Linked DNA regions of Homo sapiens. The protein of the gene in region 2 purifies or fractionates together with the protein of the main gene of each other region. This does not show direct contact. Each region holds a gene or a part of one and is shown on either strand. Other genes may lie near its edges.

Region 1 (3,935 bases), on a different chromosome or scaffold from region 2:
ATGGGGTTTCACCGTGTTAGCCAGGATGGTCTCAATCTCCTGACCTTGTGATCCGCCCACCTTGGCCTCCCAAAGTGCTGGGATTACAGGCCTGAGCCACCTCGCCTGGCCTCAAACTGATTTTACGTGGTACAGTTGCTACCTTCTGCAGAAAGCCTTTCCTGACCTTCCTTACTTCCCCTACTCCAAATCTGGATAACTCTTGTTCCCACAGTAATCTGTGTAGTCATAAGACATAGCCCTGGTTTTTCCATGTTGTACAGTATGTATCTCTTTACTTCCCTAGTATATTGTGCACTTCCTGAGGGTGTTTCCTTAGCAAATTCCATCTTAAATAGATGAGGCAGAGCCATCCACAGCTTCACCTTTATCTGAAGTGGTAAAGTCCAAACTATATTTTCAATGTAAAATGTTCATTTAAGCCAGTCAAATCATTTTACTTTATATTAATATTTTCCATCTTGTTATACTAAAACAAAAACCCCAAACACAAAGGGAGCTCCTGAAATCTGCCTAGAGGAATTTTATTCTAATTAAACACACACACATACGTTTTTCTAAGTTCATTATAAAAGCAATGCTTTTGAACTTCCTAATAATGACTTTATTCACTATTTTACATTTGGCTCACTGCTAGAAGACAGTTACAAGCATAGAAAATGGACCCAAGGACAAACATTTACTTGGGAGGGAAATAACACAAAGAAGCATATCAATCGATGTCTTTGTCAGTCATTCTGTGACCAACCAGGAGCGGGGATGGCTTTGCTCTAGATTCTGGCAGCCAGTAGAAACCATCTCTAGAAACCATCTCATCTTTATCCATAATGGTAATAGAGCACAGTGTTCTCTAGACATGTAGATCTGCCACATGGCAAAGCTATATCATGATTTCTTCTTGCAGAGTGGGCAGTTTCAGCAGGACCTGTAAGTTTGCTTAGGTTTTCTGAAGATATCGGCATTAAAGACTTACACATTCCTTTTGTCCTCCTAACGTATTTCGTAACCACACTCTCAACATTCCAATAAGTTTTGAACTTGGAGGCACTTAGAACATAATTACATTTCTAATTTTGTTTCAGTTTGATATGTGTCCCTTCCTTCCTTTTTTTGGTAGAGACAGTGTCTCACTATGTTGACCAGGCTGGTCTTGAACACACCAGGCCTAAAGTGATCCTCCTGCCTCAGCCTTCCAAAATGCAAGGATTACAGGTGTGAGCCACTGTGCCTGGCCTATACTTCCTTTCTTAATCAACTTTGTTTTTATTTATTTATTTATTTATTTATTTATTTATTTATTTATTTATTGAGACAGGGTCTCGCTCTCTTGCCCTGGCTGGAGTACAGTAGTGCACTCTTGGCTCACTGTAGCCTCGACCTCCGGGGCTCAAGTGATCCTCCTGCCTTAGCCCCACAAGTAGTGGGACTATAGGCACACACCACCATGCCCATCTAAGTTTTTGTATTTTATGTAGAGACCAGGTTTCACCATGTTGCCCAGGCTGATCTTGACCTCCTGAGCTCAAGTGATCTGCCCACCTCGGACTCCCAAAATGCTGGGATTATAGGCGTAAACCACCATGCCTGGCCTTAAATCAACTTTAGAGTCAACATCTCTTATCACTGGAGCTTCTAGAGAAACTCCATCACGTGGTGCTCTCTTTCCTGATGTGTTGTGCCCAAATAGCTTGTTCTCATCAGATGACTTATTTGCTATGATATATATACTTCAAGAGCTGCTATATGTATTACATACATCAAATCTTTCTGTAAAGTTTGATTTTTGTTTCTTTAAAAGGAACATAAATGTTCCAGGACCAAGGGACACAAAGAGGTTTTAATTTTTAGTTCTGTAGCCTCATATATTTTAACAGAAATATAAAAACAGATAGTAGCAGTTTTCCAGTGGAGAAAACTTTCCAGATGTCTCCACTGTATCTCCTTTCTTTGCCTCTCCTTGAGAGAAGGCTGGAACTGATGGGTAAATTGGTTTTTTGCCCATCAGCCTATTCACATCTTTCCTTCCTTGTTCCCATCCTAGATTGTGGGGTTTTTTTTTGAAATCTGTTCCATTTCAGACATTTAAAGAACAGCCTTATCTAATCCTGCTCAAGCAAAATCTCAGAATCCTTAAATACAAAAGATCCTGTGTGGCCAGTCATATAGTTCATGGGAACTCTATGAACTTTGACCTAAGCTTTATCTCTGATTATATTTTGGCACTGCTGCCCCTTTACATTAACGCTGAAAAACAAAACAAAACTTAGCTAAGTTTTATGGCAAGTGGGGGCAGGGTCAGGTGAAGAGGTAGGAATTGCCTGAGGTTGGGGGTCCCTAAAACATAAAATAATCATCCAAAGCCCATTTTCCTCAAAGCTGGGGGTAATGGCCAAAGTATGTTCTCAAAGCATCATCTGCCCTGAGAAAGGGCAGCTACTCCTTCTACAGAGATCTCTGTGCACACTAATCTGTACTGTCTTCAGTACCTTGATGGCTGTTTGTGGTCATACACTCCGTGGACCAGTCTTGAGGGATCACAGGGCCAACCAGCTCAGCAAACCTCTCCAGAGGACAGCTGGGGCTGCAGCCAGGTAGCATGAGGGGATACGGCTCGTGCTGCGTCTCATTCCGATAGTACATCTCCACAAAGTACTCCCTGGCAGACAAAGGCAGAGGAGAGAGCTCTGTTAGTTCTGTGTTGTTGAACTGCCACTGAATTTCTTTCCACTTGGACTATTACATGCCAGTTGAGGGACTAATGGAAAAACTTATGGGGAGATTTTAGCCAATTTAGGTGTGTAAATGGGGAGACTGGGGCAGGCGGGAGAGATTTGCAGGGTGGAAATGGGAGGGCTGGTTTGTTAGATGAACAGGGACATAGGAGGTAGGCACCAGGATGCTAAATCAGAGGAGGTGGTGAGAAGTGATGGTTGCAGGGAGCTGGGTGGGACTTTGAGCCTTTGGATAAGAAGTGGGAGGCAGGTGGGGGTGTTGGGTTTTCCTTCTCCTCCTCCCTTCTTTTTAGGCTTCTCATTTGCTCCTTTTTTTCTTTTTCTGTTTTCCTACTTGAGTATTTCTTTCAGTCCTCTTTCTGAATGTATCTCCCCTCTCCTTAACTAGGCTATAAACATGGAACTGAATAATATATAACATATGTGCTTGAATATACAGCAAGACTTTATCAGAAAATTATCCCTCAGAACAAAGATGTGGGTATGTGTTCCAGTCCTTCCATTGTGTCACGTTAAGGAGAGCTCTCTCAATGCTTTATCTCAAAAAAACAATGTACTATTTGGGAAGGTCCAATGGTGTAAACTAACCTGAGTTAAACCAGCGTGAGTTGCTTATGGAAGCCATTTGCTAATCAAGGAGTCAGGAGGGGAACTCAAGAAGGATTTAGAGATCCTTCTTTTGGTGTAACCTTACAATGGCTACTTTTGGTTGTCATTATAAACAAGCCTTTTAAAACATCACTTTAAAAAGCCATATAAACATAGTAACAGCAAATATTCACTTATGTCTATAAGGCTGGGCGCAGTGGCTCACGCCTGTAATCCCAGCACTTTGGGAGGTCGAGGCGGGTGGATCACGAGGTCAGGAGATCGAGACCATCCTGGCTAACACGGTGAAACCCCGTCTCTACTAAAAATACAAAAATTAGCTGGGTGTGGTGGCACATGCCTATAGTCCCAGCTATTTGGGAGGCTGGGGCGGGAGAATCACTTGAACCTGGGAGGTGGAGGTTGCAGTTAGCCGAGATCACGCCACTACACTCTAGCCTGGGCAACAGAGCGAGACTCCATCTCAAAAATAAAATAAAATAAAATAAAAATAAAATAAAATAAAATAAAATAAGATAAAATAAAATAAGATGTCTATAAAACTTACAAAAACCTCCCTAATATGTATTATGAATGGGTACTTATATCTTGGAA
Region 2 (3,500 bases):
ACCTCAAGTGATCTGCCCACCTCAGTCTCCCAAAGTGCTGGGATTATACATAGGTTAATGGATTTTCTATGGTGTACTGTTTCCTATGCTTCATCTTCCATTCCTAATTTACTGGGGAGGCACCTATTCATTTTTAAGATTAGCTCAAACCACATGACCACTGGCCTTTCCTCCCTCTCCATCCCAACCAGTAGAAAAAAATCATTCCACCTTTATGTGCCCATGACATGCCTCTGAAACTTTTACCCTAGCACTGCTATTTTACGGCATTTATTCATTTACATGTTTTTCTTTCCCACCATAATGAGTGTCTTGAGGGCAGGACCATCTCTTATTAAGCACCTAGTATACATTTAATAAATGTTTATTGAGTAAGTCAGTATAAAACAATGACCGCCAAATTATGTGAGCAATCATCAGAATATCTGATTTCTAAAAAGACGCAACAAAAATTTTTTATTGTAAATTGACAATTTATAATTGTATAAATGTATGGGTTACAAAGTGATATCATAAATTGTGGATACAATATGGAATAGTTAAATCAAGCTAGTTAACATATGCAATACTTCAAATACATTTCTGTGATGAGAACATCAATTTTGAAATGTATAATACCCCATTATTAAGTATAGGCACCACACTGTACAACAGAACTCAAAAAAAGCATAAAACATATTCTTCCTGTCTGAGATTTTATACCCTTTGACCATCATTAATTTTTTTTTTTTTTTGAGACAGTCTCACTCTGTCACCCAGGCTGGAATGCAGTGGCGCAATCTCAGCTCACTGCAACCTCCACCTCCTGGGTTCAAGAGGTTCTCCTGCCTCAGCCTCCCCAGTGGCTGGGATTACAGGCACGTGACACCATACCCAGCTAATTTTTTTTGTATTTTTAGTAGAGGTGGGGTTTTGCCATGTTGTCCAGGCTCATCTCCAACTCCTGACCTCAGGTGATCCACCCACCTTGGCCTCCCAAAGTGCTGGGATTACAGGAATGAGCCACCATGCCTGGCCTAGTTTTTATGAGACAAAATATCAATTTCAAAACAGCATCAGTGGCAAAACAGCATCAGTGGCTGGACGTGGTGGCACGCACCTATAGTCCCAGCTACTCCGCAGGCTGAGGCAGGAGAATCGCTTGAACCTGGGAGGCGGAGGTTGCAATGAGCCGAGATTGCGCCACTGCACTCCAGCCTGGTGACAGAGCGAGACTCCGTCTCAAAACAAACAAATAAACAAACAAACAACAAAAAAGCAGCATCAGAAAGTGAGCAGGCCAGGCACAGTGGCTCATGTCTGTAATTCCAGCACTTTGGGAGGCCGAGGCATACTTTTCTGTATTAAAAATACAAAAGTATTTGTCTCTACTAAAAATATCCACCCCCCCCGCCCAAAAAAGAAAAATTAGTTGAGCATGGTGGTGTGTACCTGTAATCCCAGCTACTCGGGAGGCTGAGGCAGGAGAATCACTTGAAGGATGGGAGGCAGGGGTTGCAGTGAGCCCAGATCACGCCACTGCACTCCAGCCTGGTGACAGAGCAAAACTTCATCTCAAGAAAAAAAAAAAAAAGAGTGAGCATATTGAACTACCCTCAGCTCATAGTAAGGCAAATAGGTCAACAGAATAATAATTCATGCTATTGCATTGGAAAAGCAATTAAAAGAAATTTAAAAATGTGTAAGCAGAAATTCAGTTGCATGTAAGAAAATCCAATTCCCCGTGAGAAAGAGAAAGAGCTGGAGTCCTTTAAAAATTAACTGCCTGTTTTTCTGTGGCTAGTGAGCCTTATCTCTCCTCCTTTCCCAGGCATTGTAAATACCCTGTTTCTCTAGCTGTGCAGCTGCAAGGTAACTAGACAGATAAACTCAAGTCGTAAAACATGATTTTCCTTGAAAAGTAAGAAATGATGTAATGCATGTCTCAGTTAATTGAATAACTGTCTTTCTTGCTTCTGTAATATGCTTCCCCCTGCACAGATTCCCCCCAACCCCCGCGGCCCCACAAAATGCTTAAAAGGTAACTTAACTCTGTTCAGGGTTCAGTCCTTTGGATGTTAATCTGACTGGGCTGGTGCACCTAAATAATAAATATCTCCCTGAACTCCATCAGTCTCTCTGATTCCTTAAAAATCCCGCTACATTTTGTGTAATGAACTGGCAACAAGAGAAAGTTGGTCGAAGAAAGGCAGAGGAACTGTGTCTTGTAAGAATTAGAATCGAGGGGCTCCATAATCATCTGGCATCCGTTCAATGTTGTATCTGATCAGGACAAAAAATCAACACCGGTAAGAAAGATGGGAAGAGAACCCATCTAAAAACCCATCCTTTATAGACTGCAATACTCTCACCCCCACTGTGAATCCTTTTTGTCAGTGGAAACAATTTAGGGGAACATCATAATGAATGATTTACAGCAAAATGCTGACTATAATACAATATGATTGTTTTTTCAAAGTCACAAAGTCAGCAAGAGGGGAACTGAGGAGCTGAGATCAGTAAGTCCAACTTCTTAGTCCACAGACTTCCCACCACATTGTGCTCTCCTCAAGCTGAAAAGCTGGAAAATAAGTCTGAGTACTGACAAAAAATAGCCAAGAAGGATAACAGCTTTTTTTTTTTTTAAATAAGCTTTCCATTTCTCAGATGAAGTGTTAATAAAAAAAAATCTTTCAAAACAGGTATTTCTGGCCAAAAAGATTAGCTTGATTTAAATTACTGCTTTTATTTAAAACAATACGTCTATTTCTTCCAGTAATCTTACTCTAACAATTTAAATGTTTGCCTCATTCCTTAAATCCTATCTCTCTCTTTTGCTCTTGCTCTTGCTTTGTCTCATTTCTTCAAATATAACTATGTAAACATTTGATACAATAATTTCTTTCAAATCCTTTATAACCTTATCACTTATCCTCATTTTCAATTGATATCAATTATATATTTCTATTCCCTTCTCCAAGGGAAATTTCTCACCTATGGTTAGAAATGTACATGATAGGAACTCCAGGAATCTTACGGATTCTTCTTTTCAGGTCCCGGTCAACTGTGGCCACAATGTAACACTTATGCTGTAAGAGACATGGAGTGATGTTCACACTGAGGTCACTGAGCACGCTTAGTGAATACTGGATAATGGCACAACGACTGACCAGTCTGAGAATCGTTCATTTTCACAGTAAGTAGCGAAGGGCAGGCTATAACAATTTGTTGAGTACCTACTATGATCTAGGAGCTCCTAATCTTGTTATATAAAATAAACAAGTTGCCTGGGCTGAATGCAGCATTTAGAATCTTGAGGAGGAGAAGGTAGAAAACTTTTCACAAGCTGCAAACTGTTTTCTGCTCATAAATGAAAGGGACTTTCACACTTGGGGCAGACAATTCTTTAGTTTTGGGAAAATGCTCCGAGGAACTCCATGGAGATAAAAAGTGCCTTAATTTGGAGGCCATAGCTCCCTCCTTTCCCTAGATCTTGGGGCTTGGGTGTGCTCTGGGCCTAC
Region 3 (4,084 bases), on a different chromosome or scaffold from region 2:
AAGACCTGGATTTCTCTGCATACTTTTGCCATCAGCAAGCTGTGTGACCTTGGACAGATCCCTTTTTTGTCTAAATCTTTCTGAGTCTTCTTGAAAACAATGCCAGGTTGGGACAGGATGATTGCCAAGCTCCCGTCCAGCTCTAAAACACTGCAACGTATGCTTCTGCACCAGCACTGTCCATCCTGTAGATCATGCAGAAATTCTCTTCAACTTTTTCCTACCCATAAAATAGGAGCATGCTTACCTTTTTCCTAATGTTCCAGGCCCCGGGTCTAGAATATTGTAAGTAAGGAAGTTAATGTGTATCAGAGCCCATTATGGGCCAGAAGTTCTCCTCTTCCTTCCTACACCTGCTTCCTCCCTCCCTCCCTCCCTCTTTCCCTTCCTTCCTTCCATCCATTTGTGAAGAAGACATGATCACCCTCATTCTGAGAGTGAAGAGACAGAGGCTCAACTAATGAAATGATTTGTTCAAGGTCACACGGGTGGCACAAGGCAAGTGGCAGAGGTTGAATTTAGACCCATTCCTGTCCAAATGCTGAGTTTATGTCATCGTCCCGAGACCATAACTTTAAAGATGTAAGATAGTGGGAAAAGAGTTGATTTCAAAGCACCTCTCAGAAGGACTCACTTTACATCAGGGGTCAGCAGACTCAGGCCAAATCCGGTCCATTCCCCGCTTTTGCAAAGAAAGTTGTAGTGGAACACAGCTAGGCTTATTGATTTATGGATTGCCAACGTCCTTTTGTGAAACAGACAGCTGAGCTGAGTAATCGTGGCGCACAAAACCTAAAATATTTACTATCTCGTCCTTTACAGAATGTTTGCCAATCTATGGTCCGGAGTCCAAGGCTGTCCATTTTTCAAAGAACACAAAGTGACATGAGACTGTCCCATGTGCAGGGAGCCCTATCATTTTATTATGAAAAAACGGCCTTTCTGCTCAAATCTGTTTTTTAAAAAGTCAACAAACAGACTCTGGGTACCTGTCAGGAACAGTAGGGAGTTTGGTTTCCATTGTGCTCTTCTTCCCAGGAACTCAATGAAGGGGAAATAGAAATCTTAATTTTGGGGAAATTGCACAGGGGAAAAAGGGGAGGGAATCAGTTACAACACTCCATTGCGACACTTAGTGGGGTTGAAAGTGACAACAGCAAGGGTTTCTCTTTTTGGAAATGCGAGGAGGGTATTTCCGCTTCTCGCAGTGGGGCAGGGTGGCAGACGCCTAGCTTGGGTGAGTGACTATTTCTTTATAAACCACAACTCTGGGCCCGCAATGGCAGTCCACTGCCTTGCTGCAGTCACAGAATGGAAATCTGCAGAGGCCTCCGCAGTCACCTAATCACTCTCCTCCTCTTCCTGTTCCATTCAGAGACGATCTGCCGACCCTCTGGGAGAAAATCCAGCAAGATGCAAGCCTTCAGGTAAGGCTACCCCAAGGAGGAGAAGGTGAGGGTGGATCAGCTGGAGACTGGAAACATATCACAGCTGCCAGGGGCTGCCAGGCCCCAGAGGGCCTGAGAACTGGGTTTGGGCTGGAGAGGATGTCCATTATTCAAGAAAGAGGCTGTTACATGCATGGGCTTCAGGACTTGTGTTTCAAAATATCCCAGATGTGGATAGTGCGACCGGAGGGCTGTCTTACTTTCCCAGAGACTCAGGAACCCAGTGAGTAATAGATGCATGCCAAGGAGTGGGACTGCGATTCAGGCCTAGTTGAATGTGCTGACAGAGAAGCAGAGAGGGGCACCAGGGGCACAGCCCGAAGGCCCAGACTGATATGGGCAAGGCCTGTCTGTGCTGACATGTCGGAGGGTCCCACTCTCCAGGGACCTTGGTTTCCCCGTCTGTGACATCTGTGACATGAGAGTCACGATAACTCCTTGTGTGCCTTACAGGGTTGTTGTGAAAATTAAATGCACAGATAATAGCGTAACAGTATTCCGTGCATTGTAAAGAGCCTGAAAACCATTATGATTTGAAAATGGAATCGGCTTTGTGAGACCATCACTATTGTAAAGATGTGATGCTGATAGAAATGACAGGACTGCTTGTGCATGCCCTCTGCAGTGTGACATTCCAGCAGTGAAATCATGTTGGGGTGACTTCTCCCCCACTCTGACCTTTATGTTTGTCTGGGCCGAGGCTGCAAGTCGGGCTCTGTGGGTGTATGAGTGACAAGTCTCTCCCTTCCAGATATGGGGACTGTCTGCTTCCCTAGGTTGCCTCTCCCTGCTCTGATCAGCTAGAAGCTCCAGGAGATCCTCCTGGAGGCCCCAGCAGGTGATGTTTATCCCTCCAGACTGAGGCTAAATCTAGAAACTAGGATAATCACAAACAGGCCAATGCTGCCATATGCAAAGCACTTTGGTTTGCCTGGCCACCCCTCGTCGAGCATGTGGGCTCTTCAGAGCCACCTGATGAGGTGGGTACAGTTAGCCACACTTCACAGGTGAAGAGGTGAGGCACAGGTCCCAGGTCAGGCTGGCCAGAGCTCTGTTTATTACGTCTCACAGCTTTGAGTCCTGCTCTCAACCAGAGAGGCCCTTTACCAAGAAGAAAGGATTGGGACCCAGAATCAGGTCACTGGCTGAGGTAGAGAGGAAGCCGGGTTGTTCCCAAGGGTAGCTGCTCCTGCAGGACTCTGAGCAGGTCACCAGCTAATGGAGGAAAGGCTCTAGGGAAAGACCCTTCTGGTCTCAGACTCAGAGCGAGTTAGCTGCAAGGTGTTCCGTCTCTTGAAACTTCTACCTAGGTGCTATGGTAGCCACTAGTCTCAGGTGGCTATTTAAATTTATACTTAAATGAATGAAAATAGAAGAAAATTTAAAATCCAGACCCTTGGTCACACTATCCACATTTAAAGAGGTCAATAGCCACATGTGGTTAGTGGCCACCCTATTGGGCAGTGCAGCTACAGAACATTTTTGCATCCCAGAAAGTTCTTTTGGATGTTGCTGCTCTACAGCATGCTTTGCTGAAACAGAAGTGCCTTCCCTGGGAATCTCAGATGGGAAGCAAGTAAGGAGGGGAGTCAAATGTGGGCTCACTGCTCACCAGCTGTGAGGGTTGGGCCTGCCTCTTAACCATTGTCAGCCTCAGTCTTCTCATCCATGCATGCCGTGGGTATACTAAAATACTATACCCCTGGAAGAGCTGGATGCAAATTTGACAAGTTCTGGGGGACACAGGAAGGTGCCAAGCACAAGGCTGGGCACATGGTGGCTGTGCACTACAGCTGAGTCCTTTTCCTTTTCAGAATCTGGGATGTTAACCAGAAGACCTTCTATCTGAGGAACAACCAACTAGTTGCTGGATACTTGCAAGGACCAAATGTCAATTTAGAAGGTGAGTGGTTGCCAGGAAAGCCAATGTATGTGGGCATCACGTCACTTTGCCCGTCTGTCTGCAGCAGCATGGCCTGCCTGCACAAACCCTAGGTGCAATGTCCTAATCCTTGTTGGGTCTTTGTATTCAAGTTTGAAGCTGGGAGGGCCTGGCTACTGAAGGGCACATATGAGGGCAGCCTGAAGAGGGTGTGGAGAGGTAGAGTCTAGGTCAGAGGTCAGTGCCTATAGGCACAGTGGTCCCAGGGCCACAGCTGGGAAGGGCAAATACCAGAAGGCAAGGTTGACCATTCCCTTCCTCAAGTGCCTATTAAGGCTCCATGTTCCTATGTTGTTCAAACCCTAACTCAATCCCAAATTAATCCACCATGTATAAGGTTGAGCTATGTCTCTTATTCCTGGACACCATACTCAGCCATATTCTGGTCCACACATTAAACAAGCTGGATGACCTTGAAGAAGCTTCACCCACTCTGTTCCTCAGCTTTCCCTTCAGTGGGATGATATCAACTGGACAACAGGATGTGCGATTCTTTTAGTTCCAGCCTTCCAGGATGTTTTCACTCCCCTGTTTGTTGTTGTAGGATGGTATTACCTCCACCTTCCCACCTTCCCTATGCCCTGGTTCTGTCTCCTGTGCCTCGCTCTGAAAGTGGATGAGACCTACAATTCCTGTCCTGGTAGTTCTCCTAATGAACACACTGAAGCACGAGGAAGCTGAGATTTTTGTTGCT
Region 4 (3,500 bases), on a different chromosome or scaffold from region 2:
GAATTTCTTGCCTCACCTGACTAAAAAGTTGAGCAAGATAAGCTTCAGGTACAACCTGACCCAGACTGCAAATGATGTTGCTAGGACCTGGTTCCACCCATTTCTTGGCTCTGCTTCTTTTGCACTGACTCCAGTCTCTAAGCTCTCTCCCCTGTGGGAGCCACATTGCTGCAGCCTCTCTTCACCTCCACCTAGGGTGAGGTCTGCTGGGAAAATAGGAGAGTTATTTCCAGTACCTCTCCCAAAAGTCCTAATGTACACTCCGACTTGGAGGACCTTATGGTGACCGCGTCATGGGGGACCACAAGATGCACCCAACCCTAAACCAATCACTGCGCCCAGGGGAATGTGAAGGTGTGATTGGCTCAGGCTGGGCTGTGTGCTCTGCCCAGACCAATGGACACAGTGTGGGGGAGGCATAGGTCCCCAGAGGGAAATCTGCAGCTGTTGGGAACAAGGAGAGAAGATGTTAGCATGTGTGGGGAAGAATATTTATCCTCTGTGTGATCATTCTTAGCAAAGAGTAGTTCAAATTATTTGTGGAGCTGCTTGGAGGCTGGGGTGAAATGGGTTCAGCCAGTGTCTGGAAACCTCACAAAGTCATTTTCTAAGTAAGCACTCAGGGTGAAGAGAGCTTGTAGCATCTTTAGTGTGGTCCATGAAAGAATATGTATAAAGGCAAACTCCTCCGAAAACCTTGTCCAAAAGCTAGTATTGTACTAAAGAATAGTAAGGATTGGGTTTATAAAATATCTTAGGCCAATTCACCTGTAGTCCACACCATAATTTCAGAGGAAAATTTTCAGGCAGTGGTCAACTACATTTAGATAAACGTTTTCCCAAGTGGTTATACTAGAATTTTTGCTTCAGTTGCCCAGTGTTTATTGGGATTCAGAGATGAGACACTCTCCAGGAAACTAGCAGGGAAGATGTGAAAGCAAATACACCACCACATGAAGAATCTTGCTATAATGGACATGCATACAAAACAAAGCAGCAATGCAGACTTCATTCTGCTGTCACAGAAGCCTTACAGAGGTGACAGTTAATGCCTTAGTGAGTTTTGAAGGATGAATAGGAGTACACCAAAAGGGAAAGAGATGGCGGATGTTTCACACAAGAGGAAGGGTGTGAGCAACGTTTTAGTGACCTGACATAGCATTGTATGCTTTTGGAGGCAGTGCAGATTCAGGCTTGTATTCCAGCAGTCCCTCTAATCATGTTGTATAGCTCTCCAAACTTGTTTATCCATTTATAAAGTACAATTCCTCTCTCATGGATTGTTAGGAGAATTAAACAGAAATGCAAAGTACTCAGCTCTGCTACAGTAAGAGCTGAACAAACCTTTGCCATTGCCATTATAGTCTGGCAGGAGTGCTGTGGGTGATGATTGAGGAGGGGAGAGATTAGGAGTCAGATCATGAAATGCTTTGATTGCTATAGTAGGGAGCATGGCTCTTATCCTAAAGGCATTAGAGAGCCTTGTAAATGGCTCTGAAATGAAGGATCAGATTTGTGTCACCGTGGGAAGGATAAAAAGTCCACCTGGGGGACTACTGCAGAAACCCAGTGAAGGAACGATAAAGACATGAAGTTGTAAGTCCTGATGGTTCTGGTGGTGGGGGGTGGCTATGTGACAGACAGAAGAGATATTTAGGAGTAGTCCTAGAGCATCGCTGGGTACAAACTCAGCCAGTTGCTGTGACTGACCAAACAGGCCCCTGGCTTGTAACCCCTAGGACCAGGCCTGATACTTTATAGATTTTGTCCTGCTTAATTCTCCCAATAACAAAAACATTTTCCCAGGTGCCCAGCTCCAAAGCCTATGTCCTTCCTCACTGTGAAGGAGAGTGACAAAGCTGGATGGGTCCTTCCGTCTCCCATCCTACTCCATGCCTAGCAGGGTGCCCAGCACTGAATGGCAGCTAATATCTATTTGAGAAAACAATGAAAGCAAGTGCCTCATACCATTCCCCATGTCTGGGGTAACTTCTCCCACCCCACTGCCTGTGCAAGCCCTCCCCACCTCTCAGAACCCAGTCCCCAGCCCATCTCACCATGTCAGCTTGCTCCACATCCTCAGCCCACAAAGCTTTCCCTGGCGCCGAGGGGGCAGAGAGAGCCTCCTGGGCATCCTGAACGATTCCTTCGACCCTCAGCCCTGCTGCTGGTGGCCTCTGTGCCAGCTCTACGGTCAGAGGTCAGGGTGTGGCTTCCTAAGACATTACTGCTTTATGGACAGTCTGGCTTTGAGTTAGTGTGGCTCTTGTTGAGATCCCAAAATATAGTTTGGCTTTTCCCCTGCATCAGTTTTCTTTCCAGGAAACAGAAAATGGAGTTTCTCGGAGTCTGGGGTGAAGGGGACTGAAGTGATGCTGCCCCATTCTCACCAACCACCCACAAGGGTCCTGGCCCCAAGCGGGTGAATTCCTTGCCTGCCTGGACCATTCTCAAAGTCAGGGCAGCTTTGGCTTCCTCTCCATTTTCAAGTTTTCATACCTTATCAGGGCAGTCTGACTTTGAAGCATCATTTTCCCTGGAGTCCTCAGGGCTCTCAATGAAGCATGAATCCCCCTGTCCTGGGGTGAGGATGCAGATGAGGGCCTGGTGGGTGTGTGGTGTGGCCCTTCTCCCATTTATGTCATGAACTTTGGCAGACTTGTACTATTTGGGTGCTCTGTCCCCATCTCCACCCCTGTGGGTCAATGCAAACAGAACAACTCCTCACATTTGTGAGGGCCCCACGAGGTGCTTGTCTATGCCTTAGATTATTTGAGTGACAGTGGCCTTATGACTGAGGTAGGGGCAGTATTACTATTTTTAAATAATATTTTCTCCTGCATGTTTTTGTTTAAATGTGGGAACTCTAGGAAGTACATAGAAGAAAAAAAAAAGGGCTGTTTTCCCATCATGTTTGCTCTTCTGTACTCCCCCAGTGTCTACCCTGCTGTTAATCATCTTTGTTATTCTCCAGGACAGATATTTTTTGAGATGGAGTCTCACTCTGTTGCCCAGGCTGGAATGCAGTGGCGCGATCTTGGGTCACTGCAACCTCCCACTCCTGAGTTCAAGTGATTGTCATGCCTCAGCCTCCTGAGTAGCTGCGATTATAGGCACGCGCCACCACGCTCACCTAATTTTTGTATTTTTAGTAGAGACAAGGTGTCACCATGTTGGCCAGGCTGGTCTCAAACTCCTGACCTCAGGTGATTGGCCTGGCTTGGCATCCCAAAGTACTGGGATTACAGGCCTGAGCCACTATGCCCAAACTTTAGGAAAGATAGTATTATCTCCATTTTATAGACAATAAAAGTTTAAGCTCAAAGTCATATAACTAATAAGCGGCACAGTTATAAGGAGAATGTGCACAGTTCTTCTCATCACCAGTCTAATGCAATAGTAGGACTTCAATGCACAATTGTTGAATTCAGAAAGATAAATAAGACTATTTGTTTATTTATTTATTTATTTATTTATTTTGAGACAGCGTGTCATTCTGT

What was found.
Region 1: the proteins of FCF1 (region 2) and ACP3 purify together in Homo sapiens (affinity purification with mass spectrometry; 2 studies listed by BioGRID and IntAct, with this or other methods). This does not show direct contact.
Region 3: the proteins of FCF1 (region 2) and IL1RN purify together in Homo sapiens (affinity purification with mass spectrometry; 2 studies listed by BioGRID and IntAct, with this or other methods). This does not show direct contact.
Region 4: the proteins of FCF1 (region 2) and SDR9C7 purify together in Homo sapiens (affinity purification with mass spectrometry; 2 studies listed by BioGRID and IntAct, with this or other methods). This does not show direct contact.

What each region holds. Positions count from the first base shown.
Region 1 is NC_000003.12:132,355,407-132,359,341, reverse strand, and holds the end of ACP3 (prostatic acid phosphatase isoform PAP precursor), read right to left. Parts: intron 2,657-3,935; coding exon 2,464-2,656; 3' UTR 501-2,463; downstream 1-500. UniProt on the Homo sapiens protein: A non-specific tyrosine phosphatase that dephosphorylates a diverse number of substrates under acidic conditions (pH 4-6) including alkyl, aryl, and acyl orthophosphate monoesters and phosphorylated proteins.
Region 2 is NC_000014.9:74,733,644-74,737,143, reverse strand, and holds part of FCF1 (rRNA-processing protein FCF1 homolog), read right to left. Parts: intron 3,069-3,500; coding exon 2,974-3,068; intron 2,263-2,973; coding exon 2,214-2,262; 3' UTR 1-2,213. UniProt on the Homo sapiens protein: Part of the small subunit (SSU) processome, first precursor of the small eukaryotic ribosomal subunit.
Region 3 is NC_000002.12:113,126,314-113,130,397, forward strand, and holds the start of IL1RN (interleukin-1 receptor antagonist protein isoform 1 precursor), read left to right. Parts: upstream 1-1,284; 5' UTR 1,285-1,311; coding exon 1,312-1,427; intron 1,428-3,262; coding exon 3,263-3,351; intron 3,352-4,084. UniProt on the Homo sapiens protein: Anti-inflammatory antagonist of interleukin-1 family of proinflammatory cytokines such as interleukin-1beta/IL1B and interleukin-1alpha/IL1A.
Region 4 is NC_000012.12:56,924,409-56,927,908, reverse strand, and holds part of SDR9C7 (short-chain dehydrogenase/reductase family 9C member 7), read left to right. Parts: intron 1-3,500. UniProt on the Homo sapiens protein: Plays a crucial role in the formation of the epidermal permeability barrier.